Regions from separate parts of the Homo sapiens genome. Here regions 1, 2 and 4 are each reported to be linked to region 3. Evidence: microRNA targets listed by miRTarBase, many of them from high-throughput screens and not tested one by one. Region 3 holds a microRNA gene; each other region holds the end of a gene's coding sequence.

Evidence for each region. Region 3 holds the annotated microRNA hsa-miR-8058 (CUGGACUUUGAUCUUGCCAUAA, at 4,269-4,290, shown strand). A microRNA usually pairs through its seed, bases 2 to 8, with sites in the 3' UTR of a target mRNA and lowers its output. Matches are read on the target gene's strand: a 7mer-m8 pairs with bases 2 to 8, a 7mer-A1 pairs with bases 2 to 7 and ends in A, and an 8mer does both.
Region 1: the mRNA of ATAD2B is a reported target of hsa-miR-8058. Seed matches in the 3' UTR shown: 7mer-A1 at 4,519-4,525.
Region 2: miRTarBase lists SPANXN1 as a target of hsa-miR-8058. Seed matches in the 3' UTR shown: 7mer-A1 at 872-878.
Region 4: miRTarBase lists TMEM233 as a target of hsa-miR-8058. Seed matches in the 3' UTR shown: 8mer at 6,173-6,180.

What each region holds. Positions count from the first base shown.
Region 1 is chr2:23,746,256-23,753,423 of GRCh38, reverse strand. ATAD2B (ATPase family AAA domain containing 2B) reads left to right here. Exons shown (of 28, transcript NM_017552.4): 28 at 1,337-4,760. The coding sequence ends at 1,378. Among named protein-coding and RNA genes, the nearest start is that of ATAD2B, 180 kb to the left of the region's middle.
Region 2 is chrX:145,254,961-145,262,128 of GRCh38, forward strand. SPANXN1 (SPANX family member N1) reads left to right here. Exons shown (of 2, transcript NM_001009614.3): 2 at 711-1,248. The coding sequence ends at 854. Among named protein-coding and RNA genes, the nearest start is that of SPANXN1, 11 kb to the left of the region's middle.
Region 3 is chr16:82,684,720-82,691,887 of GRCh38, forward strand. MIR8058 (microRNA 8058) reads left to right here and starts at 4,212; the gene lies at 4,212-4,300. All of the region lies in intron 1 of CDH13 (cadherin 13), which reads left to right.
Region 4 is chr12:119,640,052-119,647,051 of GRCh38, reverse strand. TMEM233 (transmembrane protein 233) reads right to left here. Exons shown (of 3, transcript NM_001136534.3): 3 at 3,977-6,353. The coding sequence ends at 6,347. The region is part of intron 1 of PRKAB1-AS1 (PRKAB1, TMEM233 and CCDC60 antisense RNA 1); the gene reads left to right. Among named protein-coding and RNA genes, the nearest start is that of PRKAB1-AS1, 25 kb to the left of the region's middle.

The sequences.
Region 1 (7,168 bases), not on the chromosome of region 3:
CTGGTGGTCTATCTATTAAATGTTTATTGAGTACCTGCAGTGCCAGATGCTGTGCTGGGTGTTTGGAATGCAAAAAATGAGTAAGACAAAGTCTCTGCTCTCAAAGAATATTTTTAGTATATTAAAGATTTATATGTAAAGGATATAGTTATTTTTCATGTGTAATTTTCTTTTCTTATTTGGCAATATATGATAAAACATTTAGCAGGAGTGATTTTTGTTGGCCACATGGAAGAACTTGTTGATCGGATGATGATCTGTTAATACAGCCTGTTAGTTTTGCAGAGATGTAGAATAGAATTTCTTTGGAGCTGTTTAAAGGGAAGGAAAAAATGCAAGTGTCTTAGATGTATTTGACATTTGCCCACCTGAATAAAATGTGCGGGGTAGAGTTATTCACATTTTTTTTAATTCTAGAACTTCTTTGTTCATATGGTTGCAGTTTTATTAGCTTGAATGCATTAAATACTCCTCACCAGTGAAACATCTCAGTGTGGAATCCTAATAATCTAGAGGCCTAGTTTAGGGAGGGAAGGGATTGATAACAGAATCAGCAGTGAGTGGCTTTCATGGTGGTAGTGATGGAAGCCACTCATTCTGGCTCTTTTTTAACCCTGTCTTTTCAGCTCTGGTTGGAGTGAATAGAAGTGGGAACACAATGCATTCTGCTTTTTGGCATAAGTTTCACTATACTGAATGCATTCATTTTGCTTTGGGAGTTAGTGAAATATAATGAGGAAGGAAGGGCTCAGTCTCTGGAGTGAGGCTGCCTGTATTCAAATCCTGACTGCCACCTGTTAGCTGTCAAATTATTTATCCCCTCTGTGCCTCAGTTTCTTTATCTGTAAAATGGACCTGATAGTAATACGTTTGTTCAATCTTCAATGTTATGGGAGTTAAAACTATATATATAAATTATATATATATGCATACATATAAATATAAATATTTACTTATATTTATGTATTTTATATATAGAAATCTCTTAGTAAATATCTGGCATAATAACTTACTCATTAAGTGTTGCTATCATCATCCTTATATTCATATTACTCATATCATACCTCATACTGATATTACTGGCATAATAAGTTAGTTATTTGTTGAGTGTGACCATCATCATCATCCTTATTGGCCTAAATATAAAATAGGAGGTACTTGGAAGTATCTAGGGGAGATAGTCTTAATTACCTATGGTATTATAATCAGGAAAATATTCAAAGTTTAACCTGTATCTCAAATTCATTCCCTAAAAATTTAAAGTGAATTCTTCCGTAATGAGGAACACTTTTGTCTTTCCCTTAATAGATAACATGCATTTTTTTTCCTTTTATAGGAGATGGAAAGAACAGTTCATATGTTTGAGACATTCCTATGAACTTTTCAAGATGAGTGGTTTATCCTCTCCAATCTGCTCCTCACAGAGCAGTCTTCTGAGCCATTCAATTTCAAATTGCACCAATTATGTGCAGAGCCTTGGTGTAAAGTGCTCTCTCACTCATTCTTTCTCTCTGTTGAATTTGGTGCTATTGTCTCAGGTACCTGAAACCAACCAGCCTACAAGAACCAAACAGAACTTCAGAAACATGTTGTATTTTCCACAAATAAAAAATACAACCCCACAGCTTGGAGATTTTGGTGCTACAGAAACTGCTCTCGCTTCTGCTCCTCTTTTTGTGCACTCTCTTTTGGAGACTCCTCTCTTAGGGAGCAGACCAGCAAACAGGAGGAAACTGGATGGGGGCAGTTCTAACTGTGTTGAATTGTTTAAACAGTGGGCAACTTGTTATTTTTTTTTCCTCCATTTTACCCCTTTAATCATATTTTTCCCCCATCTGGGTAATGGACTGAAACCTGTTTTAGAGTTGGCTATGGTCTGTTCTGGTGGGAAGCTGAAGAAACTGGATGAAATTAGGTCAGGCTCTTTAGAACTGCCTTTAACGTGCCTTTTTATTCATTTGAGGAAGATAAGGCTAAAAGGATGGGCTGTTTGAAGCAAATAAATTAGAAATATTTCTTTGGTCACAACCTTGAAAATAAGTTTTGATACTCTATGTCATTAAGAGACAACCAGTGTTTGGGTATGAAATGCCTGTCTTATTCTCAAAGCTCAATCAAGACACCCAGTAAGCCACATAATATACTAAAATGGTAAGTTTTCTTGTAAGGTCTGTTTTGGTTTAAGAAACATGAATAACAACAAAGAATAATACACAGTCCACACACAAAAAAACAAAAAACAAAACTGCACACGTTTTGGTATTGCCAACAATGATGACTAGAAAATAAATAGATAGTGGCCATTTTTTCTTCTGTCAGTGGCAATTTAATAGTTATTCATGTTTGAGTTCCCAGAGAAAAATGGTTTTCATATGTAGTAAATTGTTGTTTTGTTTTAAAGCCAGGACTTGCCAAATGGACAGAAAAGAGAGGAATTCATCAGAAGCTCCATAAAATTCATTTTCTGTATGCTTAATTGCAAACGAGCTCTGGTATGGTCCTTGAATAACAGTATTAATGTTTAAATCCCATCTCCTAAGCTTACCTTCACAACTCTTCTTTTTGATTGGAAACCATTTTGAATCTTGTTGAGTGATTTCTGTGAATTGTATGTATCTGAAATTAATTATGGGTTACTAGTTTTACAAAAACTTTCTACAAATTTGGAGACACAGTCTAGGCAGTTGCAATGAGGCAAAGGATGCAGTGACTTTTTTTATCAGATGATTTTTAAACAAAAAGAAAATTTTGCCAGCAAGTTGGCTTGGTATCTTCATTCATTGTAGCCGTTAGCTGCAGGTGTGTCTTTCCAATATATGCAACACATGTAGTTTGGGTTTTAATTAGGGCGAATGGTCTTGGACTACTGCAGAGATTCTGAGCTACCTCAGCTTTTTGTATTTTAGTTACCAACAGTGTTTACAGAGTCTTGTAATCACTTTGCCACCGTTTACATCCTGAAGCTAAGGTACTTGTCTCCTTGTCTTTGGCTCTTTGTAGTGTGCAGAAAGCATACTTTGGCCATAGCCTACTGCAGTAATCCAAAGTGCTTCTTTGCATTTACATTTACATCTAACGCCTTCTAATTCTAGCTTAATTTTTTTTTAAATGCCACGTGTTTTCTTTGTACCTAGTCTGTGAAGTTTCTGTAATATCCAGTTAGTCATACAAGTCAAGATGCTACCCATGTAGACACACTGTATTTTTAAGGTGGGCAAGTGCGATTAACGATGAACCATTTTAAAGGGGAGGTTATTTGAAACCTCTAATTTGATTATTGGGAGGATTTTCATGCTTTCTTTAGTATTTATTACCATCATACCGATTCAAACTATTTTATTGTCTAATACATTAGCATTTTGTATTTTGATGGAAATTGTTACAGAATTTAAAGATTTGATGAAATAAGATGTAGCAGATTTTTTGTAGCAAGTTTCTGGTAAAAGGGTTTTTTGCAAGTCTCAGGTTCTTGCTGCACTATTTTTTTTTAAATATTTATTCCAGTTATTCTAATTCAGAAGCATTCTTTTCAAGTAACAGCAGCACTTGTGAAAGGAAAAAAAAATGCACATGTTTCTTAGTAGGTTACTAAATTTGTACAATTAATTAAGATTTTAGCCATCAGTGAGTTTGAAAAGGGAAATGTATTTATTTTCAGCATTAAAATGCTTCCAAAAGATCAAGTTGCTTTTGTTTGTTTGTTTTTTTAACCGTAATGTAGATGGAGAAATTGGAGGCAACCTCAGTATAGGAACTGCCACTTTGAACAGTTTAGGTCTTAAAGAGAAAGTCAATCTAATGCCAAGGGGAGAACAATGAGCTGAAATTGTACCAACTCCTCTGGCCCTCCTTCCCTCAATTAAAAAAACACACTTACCAGTTTTGCTTATTTTACAGATATCTGGTGGTTCTATAGTTTAAAGCAGCTTGTGAAATTAAAAAAGTGGACTCAATTTTGTTTACCTTTCTGTAAGTTTTTCATTTTTGCTGTATAGCATTGGCAAAAATATGTACAAATTGACCTCTGTTCTTATTTCCTATTGTGAGCATTATAAAGATAAGCTCCTATGTAAAACCTTGCTCTCAGATGAGTAAAATATGTATCACAGCATAGCTCAGCAATAATTCATGCTCAGCTGTGGGGACCCTGGGGGCTTTTTGAAGATGATGGAACCGCACTAGGGTTGAAACTGATGGCTGTGGAGTTAATTGTGTTTTCGAGCTTGAATCTCACCTGTGATTTTTTTTTTTTAATGTTGTTTCATGACTTGATTTTTCTCATAAGCCAATGTATTTGTAGGTTTACTGGATTTTATTTTTAGGGAGTGGGTAATTTCTTCCCTTTTTTGATTAAGTTGGTTCAGCTATGGTGCTATTCAGTAGGTATCTTCAGTGTCAGGTCCCGTAGCTGAATGCCATTGTTATTATAATTATTATTTGTAATCACATTGTAAGCTTGAATTTGGGCTTGTACCTGCATCTTTTGTATTCTGTACATCTGGTTACTTAGACTTTGGGAGTCCAATTTGGTTTCAGTCATGTATGTCTACTTTGTAGTTTAAGTAGACTTCATCAACTATGGTCTATTTTGGGTTTGTAGTTTTAATTTAGAATTGTGTTAAATTGATGTTTTGCATTTGACTTCATTTGACATTAGTTGAAGTAAATTATTTAATTTTTGAATTCTGGAATTTGAACATTTACTGTAATTTGTAATATAACTGCTGTGAAATACTTGAATAAAGATGACAAGAAAAACATGTCTTTCTTTAGCTTAATTATGATCACTGTTGGCTACAAATGCAGTGCTACTTTTCTAGCTGATTTAGACTGTTTTAGAGAGAGGCATATTGCTGGTTATTAAGCACCCAAAAAGTCGTGTTATATGTTCCTTTTAGATTTTAAGTACACCTCACGATTTTTTAGCTGAAAGCTTTTTATGTTGAGAAAGCGTGGTTTTAGTTTTAGTTGAAGATTGTCTAAAATATGTTGTATAGAAGCAAATGGATTACTTCTGAGATTTGTTTTTCTAGCTGGAAGACTATACGATAACATATGATCAGGTCATATGGTTCATTAGTTTAAAATGTTTTCCTTTTTATCGGGTTGTTATCAGTATACTTTGTACAGTATAGCACATAATATGGACAGAGATTTCATACCAGAGTTTTGAAGGGCTTACTTCAAGTGAGTAGAATGTTCTTGGCTTCAGAATACCTATTTTTCCTGTGTGCCTTGAGACACCTTTTCATGTTCCTGTAGTACACTGATCTTCCTCAATATAAATTCTTACTTTTGTTTTTTGAATCACAGTAAAAAAGATGGATTTTAGTTAAGACTTTGTTTTGCCTGATTTTTCAGATTCTATAATTTCAACTTTTGTCTGTATCAAAAGATTGTTAATAATAAACCTGCAAAACATATTTTTAACACTGTCTGAATGTTTAGATAAAAAGCTTATAATTTGAGGCTCAATCAAGTTTTTTGGATTCTGGAGATGAAGTTTTATTTATCTAGTTTTAGTTTCCATAAGACTCAAAACTACAGTAAAATCTGAGGCAAATCTTTAAATCTATTTCATGTTATCCCTGTACCCTGACACCTACAAAGTTATCTAGTGACTGTTTAAAAATATATACATTCCCTCTTTTACCCCCACATGTATATGTTTGTTATGTGCCTGACATTATGCCAGGCATGTGGGATACACAAATAACATATTCCTGTTCTCAGGTAGCTTAGAGTCTGCCAGGGGAATTGGTATATATACCAGTAGTAATGATTCAGTGGAATAAGTGCTTTAACAGAAGGGACACAATAACGTTCAGAGTTCTGGGAAGGGAACCAATTAATTATGTTTAGGAATGGGGGAAATAAGGAAAGACTTCAGAGAAAGTTGGCATTATATTTGCTCTTCATCTCTATCTGGCTTTTCTAGAGTCGATCCCCACTTTACCAAAGTTTGTTCTTGTTTTTTTGTGTGTGTGACCTTTCATATTACATCAGATGTATTGTTACAGAATCTAAACCCTGCCCATATTTCAGGGCTGTATAGTATTATATATATAATATACATACTATGTATGTATGTGTAATATATATATATTACACATATGTATATATATGGCGTATGCTGATCTTTCTTCAGAAATTAGCTATGTTTTGTACTGCATTACATAGTAAGTTACTATGTAAATATAATTTATAAAACAGTAATTTATTCATGAGGGAAGGGGAGATAGAAAAGTATTATATTTCTTCTGTATTCCCTATAGGAATTTGAAGCAGTGCAGGATTCAGTAGATGCTTATTTAATTCCTTTAGATTTGCATGACATAGAAGGCACAAATTTACCTTAATCATTTTTTCATTCATTTATAAAATACATAACAAGTGCCTACCATGTATCAGGCACTGTTGCAGGTGCTAGAAATAAAGCAGCAAACTAAACAGAAAAAGTCCGTGTCTTCATGGAGCTTAAATTCTTTCTGATGTTGTGTGCCAGGTTTCTGTCATGGTTGATCAGAGTTCACATTATTTTTTAAAAGTGTGGTGCTCTTAAAAGCTCTTAAAGCACTTTTAAATTTCATTAAGCAGTGAATGAAGCATTTTGTTATTAAAAATTTGCCAGGAACTCTGCTTTTTCCTTCTTGCTTCCCTTATATTCCCTATCTTGGTGAGAAACCTAGCTGTCAACCTGAACTTTATCTTCTTTATGACCCATCTCATTCTAATCATGCAGCACATTCTGTTGATTTATTTTCCCCCTAAGCATGTCTCATACCTATCACCCTTTCTCCATTCCTGTTATCTTAGTTTGGGCACTAATCCTTTTGTTTGGACTAGTGTAATAGCTGTCAGTTCAGTAAACATTTAAGCATTTATTCAGTGCCTACAGAGTGCTAGGCATTGAGGGAGCATAAAGATGAGCAAGACATTGTGTCTGTCTTCAAGGACATTTTTATAATTTAACATACTTATATCACGTTTACTAGGTGCTGGAGACTATTCTGAGTGCTATACAGACACAAATGCAAATTCTTTTCATCTTTACAAGAACCTTATGAGATAGGTGCTATTATTATCCCCATTTTACAGATCAGGAAACTGAGTTATAGATTAATTTGCTCAAGGTCACACATCCAGGATTCAAATGTAGGCAGTTTGG
Region 2 (7,168 bases), not on the chromosome of region 3:
CTTTCTGGGTTGCAGCAGAAAACTTACCCATTAGAACCCAATCACCAACCACTCCAGGTTTTGACACCAAAATGTCAGGTTTTGAAGAGAAGGCGAGGATGAAAGAAAGACACACAGAGATGGGGCAGCTCAAACAGCAACACAGGAATATTGCAGAAACTTGTGGAAGTGGGGGAACAGCTTAATGCCAGATCCCACCACTGCTTACAGCCTGGGGTACTTACAGGTATGGGTGGGAGGGATCTGGGCAGTATGGCTTGCTGCCAGGCAGGATATTGATAAGATGTTCTTATGATCAGGTGGTTTGGCCCTTTTTCTGGTGGAATATCATTGTGGTGTTCCTTAGAACTTTGCCAAGCAAGATATGATAGGGATGTTTCTTTAGTTGGGCCTTTGTCCGCCTTGTGGACAGGTGGTTAGGCAGGATGTTTCTCACGGCCTGAACCCCCATGGGATGTTTCACTTTGACCAAGGTCTGCAAAATGGCAAAGAACTTACAAAATGGTGCACTTTGGACTAACAGGTGACCCTACCCATGCTCCTCTTCTTCTTCCCCATAGATCCCTACCCTATGATTCAACCTTGTTCTTCTCTGGCACACACCCCTTCCTCCACCTGCATTCCTTCTCATAAAGCCCCCCTTGCTATCCAGTCTCTATCCTATTCACCCAAAATAATGTCTTTCTGGCCTCTCCCTGTTTTCTTAACAGATGCAGGAGACACCAAACAGGGACTTAGCCCCCGAACCGAGTTTGAAAAAGATGAAAACGTCAGAATATTCAACAGTATTAGCGTTTTGCTACAGGAAAGCTAAGAAAATACATTCAAATCAACTGGAGAATGACCAGTCCTGAGAGAACTCCATCAATCCAGTCCAAGAGGAGGAGGACGAAGGCCTAGACTCAGCTGAAGGATCTTCAAAGCAGGATGAAGACCTAGACTTACCTGAAGGCCTAGACTCAGCTGAAGGATCTTCAAAGCAGGATGAAGACCTAGACTTACCTGAAGGATCTTCAAAGCAGAATGAAGACCTAGGCTTACCTGAAGGATCTTCAAAGCAGGATGAAGACCTAGACTTACCTGAAGGATCTTCACAGGAGGATAAAGACGTAGAATTACCTGAAGGATCTTCACAGGAGGATGAAGACCTAGAGAAAAAGCGATCATCTAGGTCAAGAAATGAAATCGAAATTTCAGAAATTACAGAAATTCTCCAAGGAAGGAGCCAGATAAATAAATATTCTGATTTCATTTTCCTCCTTCTCCAGTGATCTGCAGGGACCTACCATTCACTAAAACTAACCCGAAGCCATAGAACAAGACAGCTTATTAATACAGTCCATGGTTTATATGAGTAGATTTTTAGCAGCACAAAGTAGAGTGGAGAATGGATCTGGTGAAGCAAATGGACGATATATTGAGAACACTGAACTCAGAGAAGCAAAAGCCTCAGGAGAGATCATACTGTCTTTCTTCAACTCTCTGATATGGTGTCATGTGGAATCAGGCCAGACTTACACTTTTTGAGTGCCATACCTATGATTAGTAGGACCACAGTAGGGAACTTAGGGGAAAGTGGCATAAACTCCCTTAGGCAGTTGATGTGGATGAGTTTGTCCTGGAAAAGCTGTTTACAAAATGATCAACTGTAATTTTGCTCTTTTGGAGCTTGGAAAACAGTACCCCAAAATGAAGACCTCAGGAGCAAAAGTCTTTCTCTAATCTTCTCCTACCCTCCTGTCTCTCAGTCTCATTCTCCCCCAAGGCTAGCTATAGAAACTAGAATCCTTCTTCCCCAAGGTGTGTCATAGAAACTAAACCATATTTTCCCCAAAGCCAGCAATAAAACCTAAAAATATGGCCAGGCGCGTTGGCTCACGCCTGTAATCCCAGAACTTTGGGAGGCCGAGGTGGGTGGATCACGAGGTCAGGAGATTGAGACCATCCTGGCTAACGTGGTGAAACCCCGTCTCTACTAAAAATACAAAAAAAAAAAAAAAATTAGCCGGGCGTGGTGGCACGCACCTGTAGTCCCAGCTACTCAGGAGACTGAGGTAGGAGAATGGCGTGAACCCAGGAGGCGGAGCTTGCAGTGAGCCCAGATCACACCAGTGCACTCCAGCCTGGGTGACAGAGCAAGACTCCATCTTAAAAAAAAAAAAAAAAAAAAAAAAAAGCTAAAAATATTACTCTCATTTTCACTCCGCTTTTCCGTGTAAAAACTAGCCATAAAGAAACTGACTGTAGGTCAGAAGGCCCCCATTTCAGAGGGGTCCCTGCCCCACACCCAGAAGGAAGAATGCTGCTCAAAGAAGCCAAGAATAATCTAGACATACAGGCCTTTCTGTGTTTCCCCACTCAGTTCATTAGTATTAGTTTATACCCTTTTTGTCCAATCCTATTTCTGAGCCTCTATCCATACTTCCTTAAACCTAGGCATAAAATGCACAATTTCCCCTGTATCTTTGGGTCTTCATTCTGAAGGCTCCCAAATACACCCCTTAAACAAATCTCTATACCTCTTCTGCTATCAATCTGGCTTTTGTTGGTGATATCTAGTGAGCTCTCAGAGGGCCTTGCCCGCTACAGCTCTTTCCTGTGGGTGTGAATATCTCACCATGCCTGTTACTCTCTACATCAAAATGTCTAACACTTGCTACCATATTTCCCTGGTGTAAAGGAGAAGGTTGTTGGGTTTTTTAAGCTTGATGTCATTTGAAAAATAAGAGTTATGTTATATAAAAACTTGAACAGTGGCAAGGATGTGTGGTAGCTTGACTGCTAATTTCCTGAAAGTTCAGATTTGAACTTGTTTGCTGTGGTATCATCTGGAAATAGCATGGAGCCTGACACACAACAGGCAATTAGTAAATACTTGCTGAATGATGGCACAAGCATGGACAGTGAAGTGTAGCATGGTGATGAGAAAAAAACACTGATAGTGACTCATATTATATAAGGTTCTAGCCCCAGCTGTGGTTATAACTAAAAATATAATCTTGAGCTAGTTAAAGAAACACCCTTTAAATGTGATGTCCAAGTACCTAATTCCATTAATTTAGATGTAATTGCTAAATGTTTGGGTCTATGTAGCACATTAATCTAAGTGCAAAAACATCCAAAATATCCAAGATAATGGAATAAGTCTCTCTAGTTGAAAGTTTAATACAATGCTGAGGCTGATATCTACTCAAAAAAGTTGAGGATGTTATTTACTCAAAAAAATTTCTAGGCATAGATAGTAGATATAATGATCTTAATTATATTATTATTTTCATTTTACACAACCTTAATTTTTTTCTCGAGTTTTATTTTAGCTACGGGGGTACAAGTGCTGGTTTGTTACATGAATATATTGCACTCAGATAGTGATTCTAGTACCCAATAGGTAGTTTTTTCACCCGTGCCCTCCTCCCTCCCTCCCCCATCTAGTAGTTTCCAGTGTCTATTGTTTCTACATTTATGTCCATTTGTGCTATTTAATCCCTGCTTGTAAATGAGAACATCTGGTATTTGGTTTTCTGTTACTACATTAATTCACTTAGGATTATGGCCTCCAACTCCATCCATGTTGTTGCAAAGGACATAATTCCATTGTTTTTTATGGCTGCATATAATTCCGTGGTGTATATGTACCGCATTTTATTTATGCAATCTACCTATTTATGGGCACCCAGGTTGATCCCATGCATTTGCTATTGTGAATAGTGTGGTGGTGAGCACACGAGTGCATGTGTCTTTTGATATAATGATCTATTTTCCTTTGAGTATATACCCAGTAATGGGATTACTGGGTCAAATGGTAGCTCTATTTTAAGTTCTTTGAGAAACAGCCTAATTTTTAAAAGACCTCAAAAGATAAATTTACTTTAGTAAACTTTAAATCAATGTACATTTTGGCCAGGCGCAGTGGCTAACGCCTGTAATTCCAGCACTTTGGGAGGCTGGGGTGGGCAGATTACTTGAGGTCAGGAGTTTGAGACCAGCCTGGGCAACATGGCGAAACCCCATCTCTACCTAAAATACAAAAATAATAGCCGGGCATGGTAGTGTGTGCCTGTGGTCTCCACTACTCAGGATGATGAGGCAGGAGAATTGAGTCGAAAGGGAGGAGGTTGCAGTGAGCCAAGAGTGAGCCACTGCACTCCAGCCTGGGTAACAGAGTGAGACCTTGTCTCAAAAAATAAATAAATAAATAAACAAATAAAATAATGCACATTTAAATGAAGAATATATCTTTGCCTTGAAATGCTTCACTAAATGTGAATAACACTACTAATAATACTAATGATATCTAACATTTTCAAATAATTACGTCTAACATTTATTTAGCATTTCCTAAATATCAAGCACTTCATATGCATAAGGTAATTTAACCCTCATAAAAAGCTTATGATTCTGGTAGTTTTGCTATCAGCATCCTTAGGGAATGAGAAATGGAGGCCACATAGCCAGCGGTGAAATAGAGATTCAAACCCAGACAGTCTTGAATACAGAGGCTGAATTGGTATCTATTCACTATAAATATTATATCTTGACTTTTCCTCAGAAAGCTCATGGTAAATGCACATGTTTTCTGCCATATAAATTCAAAGATACCATGATTTCATACTGATATGGTCTGGTTCTGTATCCTTACCCACATCTAATCTTGAATTGTAATCCAAATTGTAATACCCACATGTTGGGGGAGGGAGTATACATAAAGAGGGTGGGGCCCCGGGCTATACTACTGCTTGACATCAACATGGAAGAGGTAACTGGCAAACCGGAGTTGCCTAACACAGCTATGGATCAACCAACACCAGACATGCAACAACCAACCACAGACACCAAAGGAAAGAAGAATGAATATCCCATATGAACTCAAGTCCAGAGACAGTGGCAAGGTCAGATCAAGCTGCCCATGTTCTTTCTCTGTCCCCTTAACTATATTACCACTTCCAAGACTCCTACCTTAACCTTATGTGGTATGTATCCCCTCCTCAGCCCATAACCAGGTTCAGTAAACCCTCCTTCCTATGCATTTCACATTCTCTTCTCCTAAATCACTGCCTTATGGGAAGAGGACCTGACAGCACCCTGTTTCCCTACCAGGTGCAGGAGATAATCATAAAAGTAAAAGTAGCCAGTAGTTTTTCAAGGGTGTTCAAGAGAAAAATCTCTAAGAACTACCATCTCTTGAAGCAATCCTACATCAGCCAAAGGCCAAAACTATTCGGTCATTATTACAGGCCCAATGAGAAAGTGAATCAAAATCAGGGAGACTAAGACTAAGAAAACCTGGGGTTTTCTTCGAGTGAAGTGTGCATCCTGTGACTGCAGAGTGAAGAACAGACCTCTCAAAAAGTTCTTCTGTCTCCAGAGGTATGGCTGCTGAGAAATGACTAACAATGTAGAGGTTAAATCTTCCACAGTGATGATTAAAATAAAATCAACAAGTTGTAAAAGCCCCTAAGTTTTCAGTTGAATTGTGTCATCCATATGTGTATGTGTCTCTGCAAGTTATCTGATGGTGGAGAAAGAGAAAGGAAGCAAGTGGTGTGAGAAGGGAGGCAAGAGGGGTTCTGCAGGGTTAGGGGCCAAACTGGCAGGTCCACAGCCAGATATTGAGAATAAAGACTGGGTCAAGACTATACATGAAAGACAATTGCTAATCCAAATGCAAGAAGGAAAATGGCATGGTATTGCTTCTGTGTGTGTGTGTGTGTGTGTGTGTGTGTGTGTGTGTGTGTGTTAATAGTGGCATTGGTAGTAGATGTCAGGGTCTAGATCACCAAAACCCAAATGAGGTTAAATGCCAGCTATCTGCAATTTTCTGGACTCTTGCTCAACCTGCTCTCTTCCCATCTCCAATCTCAGTTGAAGAGGTATTTTTCCTTCAGTCTGAGGCAAATCCCATTTGTTACCACCTCTTCAGGGAATTTAATTCATAAATGTTCTATCACCTGTTTCTTCAATCTTGTCTACCAGCTTCTTATTCCTTCTTGTCAACATTTGTTTTTTTATATATATAACTTCAACTTTTGTTTTAGATTCAGGGGGGTACCTGTGCAGGTTTGTTACCTGGGTACATTGAGTGATGCTGAGGTTTGGTGTACAAACAATCCCATCACCCAGGTAGTGAGCATAGTACCTAATGGTTTGTCAACACTTGCTCCACTCCTTCCCTCCCCACTCTAGTAGTCTCCAGTGTCTATTGTTCCAATCTTTATGTCCATGAATACCCAGTGTTTTGCTCCTGCTTATAAATGAGAACATGTAGAATGTAGTTTTCTGTTCCTTTGTTAATTCGCTTAGGATAATGGCTTCCAGCTGCATATGTGTTGCTGCAAAGGATATTATTTCACTCATTTTTATGGCTGCATAGTATTTCATGTTATATATGTACCACATTTTTTTAAATCCAATCCACCATTGATGGACACCTGGATTGATTCCATGACTTTGCTATTGTGAATAGTACTGTGATGATCACACACGTACGTGGGTCTTTTTGGTAAAACAATTGATTTTCACTTGGATATATACCCAGTAATGGGATTGCTGGGTGGAATGGCAGTTCTGTTTTAAGTTCTTTGATAAATTTCCCAATAGTTTTCCATAGTGGCTTAAGTAATTTACATTCTTACATTCAAAAATGCTCAGTCACTCCCACTATTGAACAAAATGCAAAACAAGCAAAGCAAACACACCCTCCCACCACCCGGCGTCTCCCTCTAGGTAGTAACCTACTTCTCTGTACAGCAGCTCTTGTAGATTCTAGTTGGAGATGTCTAGAATCTAGGAAGAGTACTTTATACAATGTTGTCTTCCAATACTCAATTAACATTACTTCCACAGTTAACTGTAGTCAACATTTTGCTTCTCCCTTACCAACGACATGCTCCTAGCAAAGCTATCTGTGTTTTGTGGTGACAGTAATTGAGGTTAGAAAGGTATGGAAGAAAGTTCTGTGTTTCACAAAAGGTAGGGATAATACCTGATACAGACTAGCTCAGTAAAAACTTTAGGAAGGAAGGAAAGAAGAGGTATTGTTGGGAAACAAATCGAATTTTAAACAAATCTCCTCTCAACCCAGAAAGCCTTTCTACGAAGATAGAAGAGAAAGAAAACAGTTTTATTATTGGATAAACATTAAACCAAAATGTGGTGCACATCACAAGCA
Region 3 (7,168 bases):
GGCATAAACAGGTCAGGTACAGAAAGCACGGCATTTGAGAATTATCCTCTGCAAACATGACTTGCAGGCATAGCCTGAGCCCACTCAGAGCCCATACCCAAGTTGTGCTTTCTTAAGGCCACAGCCTCCTTCTGAGAGCTGAGGAAGATAAGGGTGGAGGACAAACAACTTGGGTATTCTTTGAGGAAATATAAATCACATTTAAGTAGTCGCTTGAAAATGAGTAAATTCACCTATTTAATGTGTAGTATTCTTGGAGCTGGGAAATTTAGCCAAGGTGGGCACCACTTGAGACAGTGTTTGCTGTGGAGCAACATGTGTGTCTGGCCGGTAAACCTGCAATAACTCAGTGCGCAGACATTGCCAGGCAAGGCCTTTCTGGGAGAAATGATCCAATGAGGGGAAAAAATACTTCAGTTTTGTTGAGAGATGATCTTAATCTGTTTGAGCTGCTATATAAAAAAATACCATAGACTAGGTGGCTTAAAAACAATGAATGCTCATTTCACAGTTCTGGAGGCTGGGATGTTCAAGATCAAAGCGCCAACAGATTTAGTGTCTGGTGAGGTCCCGCTTTCCTCATCCATGGTGCCATCTAGCCGTGTCCTCACTTGGCAGAATGGATGAGGGATCTGGATGGAGCCTCTTTTATAAGGGTACTAATCCCATTCATAATGGCTCATCCTCATGACCTAATCACCTCCCAAAGGCCCTGCCTCCTAACACTATCACCTTGGGGGTTAGACATTTAACATATGGATGTTGGGGGGAATAAATCTTTAGCCTGTAGCAAAGATAATGAGATCAGGTGTAGGTGATTAAGTGACATCTGGAGAAAGAATTATTAGCTGCTAAGAAAGATGTGTTTGTGCCTGTGTGTGTGCACTTGCACATGTGTGGATGTGTGTGTGTGCATGTGCTCTGTGTGTGTGCTTTGTACACAAGGCAGAGTTTGCAGTCTGTGAGGGGGCCAGCAGGTGTTCAACCCCGCCTGGCTCAGGCAGCTTTCGCTTCAGTTGGCTTTTATCTCTTCCTATGTGCCCTCAGCCCTGTGTCCCAGGGAGAGGTTTAACCAAGTCTAGAATGTTCCACTCTGCTTAGATGCCACTTCAGAGGTCTTAAAACAGAACCTTTGTTTTAAGCAGAGACAGTCCTCTTTTTGATACGTGGTTTTCAGGTGCTCCCTTTAGGAATGGCCGCCACCCACATATCATGGTTCCTCTAGTGGTTAAATCATGATGAATAGGCACAGAGAGCTGATAATTAAGGTAGGAAAGAGTACCATATTTCTCTTCTGCATTATCCCTAGTGAATTACAATTTTTTCTCCCAACTGCAAGTAGAAATGATAATCACCCTTAGCTCCACTTCCACACCCTTCTCAGAAATTTGGGTAATGCATCCTCATCTTAATTATCAAAATACAGGGTTATCATTTGCAGAGAACATGTGTTTTGTGTTTGTGGGGTCTGGAGAGAGTGATCATACAATTTCTAATTCAAAGCAGAATACTCTTGAAAGTAAATCAGGACTTTCCTGTTGAAACTAGAACAGGAAGTCACCTTAGCAGTGGTAGATCTTTGAATTCGTCTCCTCCTGGTTCTGCGGAGAGCCATGAGAGACTAGAACACAATCACCAGTTAGGATCAATACACTTATAAATGCAGAGGGTCTTAGCATCCATTTGGGTGCCAGCTTCCCTTGTGTGATTGGTTACTGGTGTCAACGGAGATTGTATGGGAGAGGAACTAAAGAATGCAGGCTCGGCTTTTCCCAGAGGCAGCAGTGCGATGCATGGGTCACAGAATATGCCAGAGAACAACGAGGCCAGTCGCTCACTGACTATGGAAGATGAGTCCATTATTTAATCACTCTGGCCTTCGGTTTTTCAGCTCTAAAAATGAGAATATTCCTTTCCTCAATGATTATTGTTATGATTCCCGGAGATAACGTGCATGAAAGATTTTAGTGCAGGCCTTTCTTCCTTCCGTTGACAACCCAGAATGTTGCTTGATGCACAGGGGAAATAGAGTGATCAAGAAGAGCCTTTATAAATGAGAGTTGATGTTGAGTAATCATTTTGGGTATTATCAATACCCATGGCCATAACACCCCCACCATGTGGAACAACACAGGGAACACGACTTCTTACTCAAGCTACAACAGGAGAATTCTTCCTTGGATCTCTCTTACACAGACAACATTGTCTGTTTTTCATCAAAATGCTAGAAATGAGAGCTCAACATTTGTAAGCTCTTGCTTCGTTCAATAAAGATTGTGTATGGGAAATCCACTGCTTCTCTCCCTTCGTAGATGTAGGAATCTGCCTCAGACATTGTACAAATGGGCAGAGAGGGGAATGGAACTGAGTCTTACCCATTACGTTTAGGATTTCAGGGCTGCAGGTCATCTGTTTACCTAAGATGGAGAGGCCAAGTCCTCTCTCATGGTAGCTTTGAAGCTGGTGTCAGGGAAAGGTCAGTGCCTGTGAACAGTGATGGAAGGTGTGTAAAGGAGGAGGCAGGGTTTAGCACAAGGGGTAACTAAATCTTAACTTCTGGGATACTGGGTGGTGGTGGGGTTACTATTTCCAATTTATAGCAAGATGTAAGTGATATCAGCTGGAGGACAACTTTACTGGTCTATGTGGGTGTATTAGTCGGTTCTCAAGCTGCTAATAAAGACATACCTGAGGCAGGGTAGTTAATAAAGGCAAGTGGTTTAATGGACTTACAGTTCCACATGGCTGGGGAGGCCTCACAATCATGGCAGAAGGTGAAGGAGGAGCAAAGTCACATCTTGCATGGTGACAGGCAAGAGAGAGCATGTGCAGGGGAACTCCCATGTATAAAACCATCAGATGTCGTGAGACTTATTCACTATCACAAGAACAGCATGGGAAAACCCTGCCCCCGAGATTCAGTTACCTCCCACCCACTTCCTCCCATGACATGTGGGGATTATTACAATTCAAGATGAAATGTGGCTGGGGACACAGAGCCAAGCCATATCAGTGGGATAGATATCATTTGGAATATGGTTGCCTTCCATTCTGATCTCATTCTATCAAAGTTGGTAGATCCTAACATGGTGACCCAGCAAGAGTCTCTTTTCAAACTGGCTGTCCTCGGGGGTAGGAGCAGAGCCAGGGCAAACCGTCAGGGATGCTAAGTAAGGAGCTTCAAGGGGATCCAAGGCACCTCCTTGGACTCAGACATGCTTGGGACCGCGTTCGTAGGACAACTTTTACTGTCCATTGCCACAATGAAACATGGCAGTGACAGATGTAGGCCCTCAGTGATCACAGATCTATATGGCAGCAATGGTTCAAGTGCAGAAATGACAACAGTGTTTGTGATTTTACCTTTTTGTGAAGCTGGGTTACTGGGGTTTCTGTCCTGGAATCTCTAAACAAGTAACCACAGGGTAGTTGCTTGGCTCTTGCCTCAAGTGAACCAGCCAAGAGATCTCGTCCAACACTGGTATAGCCTGGCAGCAACTGCTACTTCCAGGCTGTGTCTCGAATGCCCTGCTGGGCTCCATGTGTATCTGGGAACATGGTTTCTGATCTACAAATCTAAGCCCCTAAATACACAAAAGCGCTAAGGCAAACCATATGCCTTAGGCTCACTTTTAAACCTCTCTGAGCTTCAGCTTCCTCAGCTGTAAAAAGAAGCCATGATCACAGGCATGTTTATGCACTAAATCAAATAATGAAGCTCACAAGTTCAGCCCTGGTCATCACCATTCAAGACTCTGAAGTCTATCAAAGCAGAATTCATGTTCTCTGGTTGCATTTTCCATCAATGGAGACTCAGAAATATTTATTGAATAAAACATCAACTATGACAACATATTTTACAGTGTAATAGTGAAAACATCATTCATCTGATGACATGCTTCTTTTGAACCATTTTGGGATGGTTCTGATATTGTTTGTAACAAGAAATAAAGATCCGAGGATGATCAAGTGAGCATTCAATTATTCTTACCTTCATTTAAAAAATATATTTTCAATATTAAGGAATTTGTTGTTATTGTTATTTACAAAGCAATAAAATAAGGTAAGAAAAATGGAGAGGCCTGGGTTGGTGATTTGGTCACCAGGCAGATTGAGAATGGAAAGAAAAGGGAACAGGGTAACCATGTGACCAATTTGCTTCTTGGAAAAGGGACCAAATAGGACCCAGAGAGGGGCTTGGTCAGGCTTCCTGGTCACTGCCAGTGCTGAGACATTAAAGATCCAGGCCCCACGGAGAACCAGGGCACCTGGACTTTGATCTTGCCATAATGGTATGCCTCCATTTAAGAACTAGGTCAGCTGTCTTTCACACCAGCTGTGTTCTTCATGCTTAGGGCAATAACATGTATAAAGTAATGGGTATTTTTCTAGTAGGGTTAACACACTTACTCAGGTTTATTCTTCTAACTTGCCTGCATCCAAACATTTTTTTTTTTTTTTCAAGATAAAACCAGCCTGTCAAACTGTGCAGTTGACATTACTTGGTAGGATGCAGAAAATATCTGAATTAGAAATGGGCCCATACAGGTTCCAGTGGGAATGGCTTTCTCAGCAGGTATGAATCACTGCTATTAAAAATGTATTCCGTAGGTAAATTGTTAGTTATCATATTCATCCACTCTTACAGAAAGCCAATGTTATCATTTGGGTCCATTATTAAGACTATCATTATCATAGTCAGTTTAGTAACCTCCTTTTACATAACATTGGATTTTTTGTGGGTTTTCAAGTCTCTTCCAAACTGAATCTCACAATCTAGGTTTATTTTTGAGGCCACCTTGCCTGAAGGCTCGAGGATGACAGGAGTGACTTCCGTCACTGCCATATTTCTTCTACACTTGAAGATTGTTTTCTGGGATGTTGCTGCAAATGGCAAATGTGTTTGATGCCCTAATGTTTAACATAAATCAGGATCATGGATGTGCATAGCCCCCTCCCGTTTCTGTAAAGTATTGTAAAGGGACTCCTGTCCTCAGAGTGCCAGGCCTCACATTTACATTCTGGACAAACTGGGCTGTCTGCTTGAAAGGGCAGATACCACAGGTTGGAGCAAACATAGCTTCTGAAGAAGATGTAATGCATTTCTGTCCCAGTAAGTTGTGCCTGATTAAGATCTTCTCATAGCTGGGGGCAGTGGCTCACGCCTATAATCCCAGCACTTTTGGAGGCCAAGGTGGGCTGATCACTTGAGGTCAGGAGTTCGACACCAGCCTGACCAACATGGTGAAACGCCATCTCTACTAAAAAAAAAAAAAAAAAAAAAAAAAAAAAAAAAAAATTAGCCAGGCATGGTGTTGCATGCCTGTAATCTCAGCTACTTGGGAGGCTGAGGCAGGAGAATTGCTTGAACCTGGGAGGCAGAGGTTGCAGTGAGCCAAGATTGTGCTATTGCACTCCAGCCTGGGCAACAAGAAACTCTGTCTCAAAAAAAAAAAAAAAAAAAAAATCTTCTCATGACCCCGGGTGGGTGGCTGGGGTGGGGTTGGTGGAGGGAAATAAATATGAAGAAGAATGGTGAGACAACCAGTGGGCATATACTGTGTAGACTACCAGAAAGCTTTGGAAATGTGTCAACCCTAAAGCATTGCTATTTTTAAATATTTAGTTGTATTTTAATATTTAGCTATAAATGAAGAACTTGGCTTGGACACAAAAATAACAAAAAATTAATATCTAAGAGTCATGTTCTCTGTGGAATAATCTTAGGGCTGGTCTGTCTTTACACATTTATTGATGATCCAGAAGAGGAAGCACACAAGTTTGTAGATTAGCCTAAGCTATTCTGGATAGAAAATACACAGGGCCCTAGCACAGCCTCGTGGGCAGAAGAGTTCATCTCGTGAGAATGAGCAAAGAGACACTTAAGAAAAAAATCTGATGCCCAAAGCCTTTCATATAGGTGACCATTGTACCCACAGTAATGAAGCAGAACTACTGTGCTCTGGAAGCCACTATGCCCACCGTTGTTCATGAATAAAAGAAACATGGTAGATATCCTTATGCATGTGTGCACATGCAGCACACCTGGCCTGGCACAACCTGCTCACACCTCTGGGAGTCACCTGGGTGTTGGCTGACGCAGCCTGGCCTCGGCTGAGCTGACTGTCAACCCCGCAACTGCCTGTCCCATCATGGACCAGAAGCAGAGCCAGGGATGAGGATGAACGCTCTAGTTGCCTGTGGCAGATAAAGAATCAGTCATCTAGCTGGGAAGGTAAAGGTTGAGAGGAAAGCCAGCCAATGTCTATAAAGACACATAGGAAATGGGAGAATAGAGCCAGTGAGGGACATGCAGAGAAACACCTAGATTTTGGATTCATTTACACATTCAGCAAATATTTATTGGGCATCTATGGTGTACCAGGCGCTGCACTGGACTCAGAGATATAACAATCAGCCAAATGAACAAGTCTGGACCTTCAGGGACCCTCGTGGAGGTGTTACCTACAAGTGAGGAAAGGAAGACCAAAGTGTTTGTTAGTTAGTTACTATGCATCAGGTACTGTGCACCTCAGAGGCCACCTGCAGTCAGTCTCCCTATATGCCAATGGCTGCCAGCATCTTCCTGCTTTGGGGAATTCTCAGCAGCCAGTAGCAGCTTGCATAGCCTGAGCATGTGGCAGGTGGGACTTGATGCAAAATCCATACCCAGGAAAAATCTTCAAGCTATAGGGGTGAAAGTTGGTGAATGGGTGTCCCAGCCTCCCTGCCCTTTGGTGGGACAATTCTGAGGCCTGTGCCATTAACTTCGGCAGTACCTTACTCATTAATGCACCCTTTACTGACATTTTCTCCTTCTCTGTCTCACTTACTACTTGGGGAGATTGTCTTCCAAATAAACTACCTGTATCCAGGTCCTTCTTATAGATCCACTCTGGGGAAAGGCAAGCAAAGAAAATACATTATAAGCCTGTTGTACTATTAGGGATGGTGACTTCCAGAAGCTGACTGTGATAACCTTTCCTCGGGCTTCAGAAGAGGCTAATGGAGAGTTGAAGGGAGAAATCAGGAAAGATGGTCTCCCCTCAATATTCTGACATGGGTTAATAAGGAGGCACTGGTTCTTAAATTGGGATCTCGATGATGCTGGACTAGCAGCAGCAATATCACCTGAGAACTTGCTGGAAATGCAAACCCTCAGGCTTTA
Region 4 (7,000 bases), not on the chromosome of region 3:
TAATTCCGTGGGTGGTCACTGGGTGTGTGGGTTGGGTTTCAGCAGAGGAATGATGTGATTAAGTCTAGGTTGTGAGATAACCCTGGCTGCTGTGTGTGTTTTTTAAGCGAATGGATGTCAAAGCAAGATGTAGTAGACAGAATAATGCTCGCCAAAAGATATCCCCATACAAACACCTGGAACTTGTGAATATGTTGGGTTACATGGTAAAGAGGAATTAAGGGAGCAGATGGAATTAAGGTTGCTAATCAGCTGACCTTAAAATAAGGAGATTTTTCTGGATCATCCAGGTGGACCCAAAGTAATGACAAGGGTCCCTAAATGGGGAAGAGAGAGGAAAAGGAGTCAGAACAAAAGAGATGCAGTGTGAAAAAGGCATCTTAAGGGGAGGAGGTAGATAATAAAGAAGATAATAAATAAGTAAATGGTGACTTTGCTGCCGTTGAAGATGGAAGGAGGCCCTGAGTCAAGGCATGTGGATAGCTTCTAGAAGGTGGAAAAGGCAAGAAAAGGGATTCTCTCTACGAACTTCCAGAAAGGAATCCAACCCTGCCGCCATCTTGATTTTGGTCCAGCAAGACCCGTTTTAGACTTCTGACCTCCAGAACTGCAAGATAATAAATTTGGGTTGTTTTAACTCATTAAGTTTGTAATGGTTGTTATACCAGAGAGCCCTGTAAGAAAGCTACTGTAGGACTGGTGCCGTGGCTCATGCCTTTAATCTTGGCACTTTGGGAAGCCGAGGTGGGCGGATCACTTGAGGCCAGGAGTTCGAGACCAGCCCGGCCAACATGGCAAAACTCCGTCTCTACTAAAAATACAAAAAATTAGCTGGGCATGGTGGTGCTAGCCTGTAGTCCCAGCTACTCGGGAGGCTGAGGCAGAAGAATTGCTTGAACCTGGGAGGCGGAGGTTGCAGTGAGCCAAGATCATGCCACTGTACTCAAGCCTGGGCAACAGAGCAAGACTCCATCTCAAAAAAAAAAAAAAGCTACTGTAATTGTTTAGATGAGCTTTGGTAATGGCTCAAGAAATATTTATTTACCTTCCCTTCTAGGCGTGCTTTAGGTCCTCTTTCTTGGGGGTGATCAGGCCATTTCTATATAGGCAGAATTTGGCCTTTTATGAGTTCCTCCCAATACTTTCACTCCAACTAGTACAACTAGTACAACTAGTCCCCATGCATGGGATTCCACGTGACCTGGGGGAGTAAACACTTGGTCACAGTTCCAGGAGCAGACAGCTTGGGTGCATCAGTGAACCAGTGTGGGTGCAAACTGGGAAATTCTACACTGGGACAGGAAGAGAGATGAACGCCGTGACCGGGTCATTGCAGGTCTGACTGGCTGCTCACCCGAGGTTTGGAACAGGTACTCGAGATGAAACTCTCTGATGCCTCATGCAGGCAATGCACAGAGGCAACTTCATACTTCCCTCTCCTGACCCCTGATAAATAGATGTCTACTGGAATGAATGAATGAATGTATTGGAAAGGGAATTCCTTCTTTCTGTGGCTTCTCCAGCAAGTGTAGGTGATGCCTGAGTCATCTTTATGCCTGCCTCTCTTTGTGCTTGTCCAAACCAGAATTCAAAGTGTTTTGGTGCAGGGACATATTTTTATAGGGCAATTCCCCAGACTTAAATATTCAATATTCGTGAGTATTTTTTAAGAATTGGTTGTAACCCATGAGTATGAACGTTATCTTACAAGATTTTTTTTTTTTTTTTTTTGGTAATTGGTGGCCCAGAACTGTCTCTTATATTTAGAAGCCTGAATCTAGGGTTACGTATCAAGATATGTGCATCATGCTGTTTTGCTGAATGCAGCTGTCCTGCTGTAGGCCAAAGGTAATTTGCTGATCCAGGAGCTGAGGCCAGCGATTTTATATCTGCATCTGTTTCTGCCCATAACTTGTGGGCAGAGACAGGGCAACTTCAAGAGCTGTAGCCCTATTGGCCTCAGCACTGCGAAGAATGGTAGGACAGGGACTGTCTTCCTTCCCTTTAGTACAGCCAGTGTGTTCTCCTGCAAAGTGATGGCACAATACTTTGTTTATGCCTCTGTCTGGGCACTCTCATGTTTCCTTCTCATTGTTTGTGTGTGTCTGTTCCCCCCACTAGACTACTGCCACCTTCTCAGGGGTCTCTCTTAAACATTCTGGAATTTCCACCAGCCCAGTTTCTGTGGTTGAGCAGGTGCTCTATAAATACTGGTCAGAGAAGGAGCTGGATGAAAGTGACAACACCACGGGGAAATTGAAAAGCTATGAGGAGGCTGGGTGTGGTGGCTCACACCTGTAATCCCAGCACTTTGGGAGGCCGAGGTGGGTGGATCACCTGAGGTCAGGAGTTCGAGACCAGCCTGGCCAACATGGTGAAACCCAGTCTCTACTAAAAATACAAAAAATTAGCCAGGTGTGGTGGTGCACACCTGTAATCCCAGCTACTCAGGAAGCTGAAGCAGGAGAATCGCTTGAACCCGGGAGGTGGAGGTTGCAGTGAGCAGAGATCGTGCCATTGCACTCCAGCCTGGGCAATGAGTGAAACTCCATCTCAAAAAAAAAAAAAAAAAAGAAAAGAAAAAGAAAAGCCATTAGATTACTTTGCCCTGCATATGGAAGGTATAGTAAGAAGCAGCATGCTTAATATGGACGCTGTTTTTTTTGTTTGTTTGTTTTTGTTTTTTTGCCTAGCAAATCTCTCTCCTTCTTCTGGTAAGAGTACTTTGGTTTTCCTTTGGGGAACCATCCTTCCCGCACCCTCAATCTATAAGGTTTGAGTGGAGCTGACCTCACATTCAGTTCCAGTGATTGAATCCTGACTTCAAGCCTGGCCAATGAGGGCACCACACACCCCTGGCCACAGCATCCATTTATGTTGGTACAGTGGCCACACCTGTTTGTTAATGACTGGTATCCATTTTGATAGGTCGGTTTCTGGTTTGTATCAGTTGTTCATTATATTGAATTGAACCATTTTTCCCCCCTGGAGCTATTAGGGAAGAAACACTGTCTTTCCACAGGCTGGTAGGAAAAAGTCCAAAGCTGTTGGCAGTCGTATTGTCCCTATTAAACTAAAATGAACTCAGCAAGTTGGGGCTGAGACCTGGAAAGGGACACGTTCCCAAAAACCCTGCGCACCAGGATCCAGCTGCCTCTGAAGCTATCCCTGGAAGTTTCCGTCTTGTGAGGGTAAACTCTACTTTTTCTGCTCTATTTAGCCAGTTTTTGTAACTGGCTGATGAAGGAGTCTCTTGGTTGATAATACACCTTTTTTTTTTTTTTGATACGGAATCTCACTCTGTCGCCCAGGCTGGAGTGCAGTGGCATGATCTCGGCTCACTGCAACCTCCGCCTCCCGGATTCAAGCGATTCTCCTGCCTCAGCCTCCCGAGTAGCTGGGACTACAGGCGCCCGCCACCACGCCCGGCTAATTTTTTGTATTTTTAGTAGAGACTGGGTTTCACTGTGTTAGCCAGGATGGTCTCGCTAGCCTGACTTTATGATCCACCTGCCTCGGCCTCCCGAAGTGCTGGGATTACAGGCGTGAGCCACCGCGCCCGGCCACCAATCTCTTTTTAAACTGTGCTTTTGCGAGTGGAGCAGGGGCAGTCTTAGCTTTGGAGGAAGCTCTGGACAAGCCCATCATCCCAACAAAAACCATTTTGTCCTTCTTAGAGCTTAGGACCTGGGGGACGCCCAACAAAAATCAGTGGCCCTCTTGACCCCAAGGAGCACATTTAATGACAAGATTTTTCTTATTTTATTTTTTTACTTTAATAGGACCAACATTTTCAGTGCCTCATAGAGGGACATTTCTGGCCATAAATTAGTTCAGAGTGATGCCTCTCTAGCGCCACCTCTGGCCTCTCTGGGCTCTTCCCTGGGGACTGATGCTGGACTAGATGAGCTTATTTTGGTTACGGAAATCTCTGGAAGGTGGGGAACCCCAAGAAAACACAATTCACACACTGTGGTACACAGGCTTACTTAAAACCATTTTTATTCTGCCTCTGAGCAACACTTTTCATTTGATTTGGGTAAAAGACCAGGGACCCAAACACGCACAAACAAAAAACAGGATGTCAGAAACAGAAATCAGGGTCCAATCTATTGGAATGATGCTAGAATCTCTGTGTGCTGAGATTTCGTGTCCCTGATTCAACGTCCTCCTGGGACAAGTGCTGGCTCATCACAACATCCGGGTAAAATGACAGGTTGAATCTGATGTTCATCAGAATTTTTTTTTTTTTTGCTAGGGTTCAGTATATGAAAAAATGCTGAAATTTGTATTGGTATAGTACTTAGAATTCTCCCCGCCAATGGTTAGTCACAACTATTACAACAATTAATTCTCATAACAGCACTGTGAGGTAAGTAGGCAGGCATTCTTATCCCCATTTTGCAGGTGAAGGAATTTTAGGCACAGAGAGGCTATGAAACTTGCCTAAAATCAGCTTGCATAGCTAGTTAGTGGCCAATAAAAACCCTGCAAAAACAAAAGGGCGTTGGAACTAGGTATTGACTCTCAGCCTCTTATTCATTCAATTAGAATAATCTGCCTTTCTTTTTTCTTTTTCTTTCGTTTTCTTTTCTTTTTTTTTTGAGATGGAGTCTTGCTCTGTCACCCCGGGCTGGAGTGTAGTGGCACAGTCTCAGCTCACGGCAACCTCCGCCTTCTGGATTCAAGTGATTCTCCTGCCTCAGCCTCTCTATTAGCTGGGATTACAGGCATGCACCACCACGCCTGGCTAATTTTTGTATTTTTAGTAGAGATGGAGTTTCACCATGTTGGTCAGGCTGGTCTCAAACTCCTGACCTTAAGTGATCTCAGCCTCTCAAATTGCTGGGATTACAGGCGTGAGCCACCACGCCCGGCCAGCATAATCTGCCTTTCTTTTGCTTCATTATCACCATCTTTCTGACATTAATTCTTTGAAGTGACTTTTGCCACATATACTTATCTGGTGTGTTAATTACTTGATATTTTCTTGAGTTCTCTTGTTTTTCTTAATTTATTTGAACAGAAACAATATGTCACATCCCCCACTGTGGGAAGCTGTAAATGGAAGGTAATAAATAAAATAAATACCATGACACAAAACAATATCATTAAATTCTATCTAGACAGAAGACTCTGAGGCCTGCTCTTTCTTTGCTAAAAAGGGAAAAGAGCCATAGTGTCTGAAAGGTGTAAAGGACCTGCTAGCACTAAACAGAGACTTTTTCCTTGCTGTAATCAGGATGAAAAAAGAATAGAAAAGGGGAAACATTCTTTGTGATTTGGTATTACTTAATGTTGTTCCTAGAAACTACTTAAAAATTATCTTGTGTACCACCAGTGGCACACCCCTTGTGCTCTGTGAGACACTGGGTTACTGCGTTCTGGCAGGCAGAATAATGGCATCATTAAACCAGTACATTCACATCTAAAGGGTTTACATTTGACAGAAAAGAAACACAATGGGTGGCATTTCCAGGTGGCATCCAGGAAAATCAAAGATCTTGCCTGAGACTTGCTAGAGATAGGAGAGAGAGTGAGAAATTGAAAAAAAAAAAGCACATTCTATAAATACAGCCAGTTTATTCCCAAAACTGGGATACAGGAAGTGCTCATGTACCTAGAATTGGCCACTAAGTCCATTCTCAGAGCCTGTTTGAGTGAAGAGTGAGGTTTTGGTCAAGTTGACCAACGTGGATGCAAGCAAGGGAGGGGGCCTATTTGGAAATATAAGCATCAAGACAAAAGGCCAGAAAAGCCCCTTCTTTGAGTGTTTGATGACCAGATGGGTGAACTCTGGGCATGGGAGTGCTGACTCCCAGAGGAGGAGTTACTGAAGGTTATAAGAATAAAAGGAAAAGCAAATCCACAACTTGAACTCTACTAGACAATTTTAAACATGCTGCAAATGTTTGTGCTCAACATTGTAAATACCAGCACCTGCTGCTCTTCCTAGAAACCTCCATCTCCCCCTATATGGAGACCCCCTGGATCCCCTCAGTGAAAAGTTATGTGATTTCCTGAGGCTCGCCTCTGGAGGACAGGAGTGGACACAACGGGATTCGCTAAACTGAGACAGTGAGACTTCATTTTTCTTTTTTCTGTTTTCTTTTCATTTTTACAAATCAATGACTTTGGCTGATCCGGCTGTGCAGCTTGGATTGCCTAAATTTTGGACTTTTTTTTTTTTTTTTTCTTGTTCATTTGCCAGGGACCTGCCTCTGGAGAGTCCTGGAGGAAAAGATCTCACAGTCTGAAGTCAAGGATCCATTCCTTAGAAACTCCTTTGGGGTGTGTGTGGATGAGGTCCATCCTCCACGCTCACAGCCCACTGACCGCTGGTTCCTCAGGCACTGTGTGGTACAGACAGAGAGAGAGAGAGAAAGACCGTGGGCTGAGCTTCTGTGGTTGGCTTTCCCAGCTCGATGCCTTCCTTATTTGATGATGATGACTCTGGTTAAACACATGTTGAAATGTACCAGCCTGCGTGCACACTTTTGACTCTAAGCAGGGGCTTCCTTTTGAGAAACATATTCTATTTGTAAAACTTATTTTATCTTACATGTGGTACGTGCAAAAAAACAAAAGCAAAAACAGGCCAGGCATGGTGGCTCACGCCTGTAATCCCAGCACTTTGGGAGGCTGAGGCGGGTGGATCACGAGGTCAGGAGATAGAGACCATCCTGGCTAACATGGTGAAACTGCATCTCTACTAAAAATACAAAAAAAATTAGCCGGGCGTGGTGGCGGGTGCCTGTAGTCCCAGCTACTTGGGAGGCTGAGGCAGGAGAATGGCGTGAACCCGGGAGGCGGAGCTTGCAGTGAGCCGAGATTGTGCCACTGCACTCCAGCCTGGGCGACTGAGCAAGACTCCATCTCAAAAAACAAAACAAAACAACAACAACAAACAAAATGCGGATATGGAAAAATGCCTCTTGAGCATTTCCGAACCTCACTCTCCTCCCCAAGGATTAGTATAGTAGTGCTGTTAGCAGTTTGG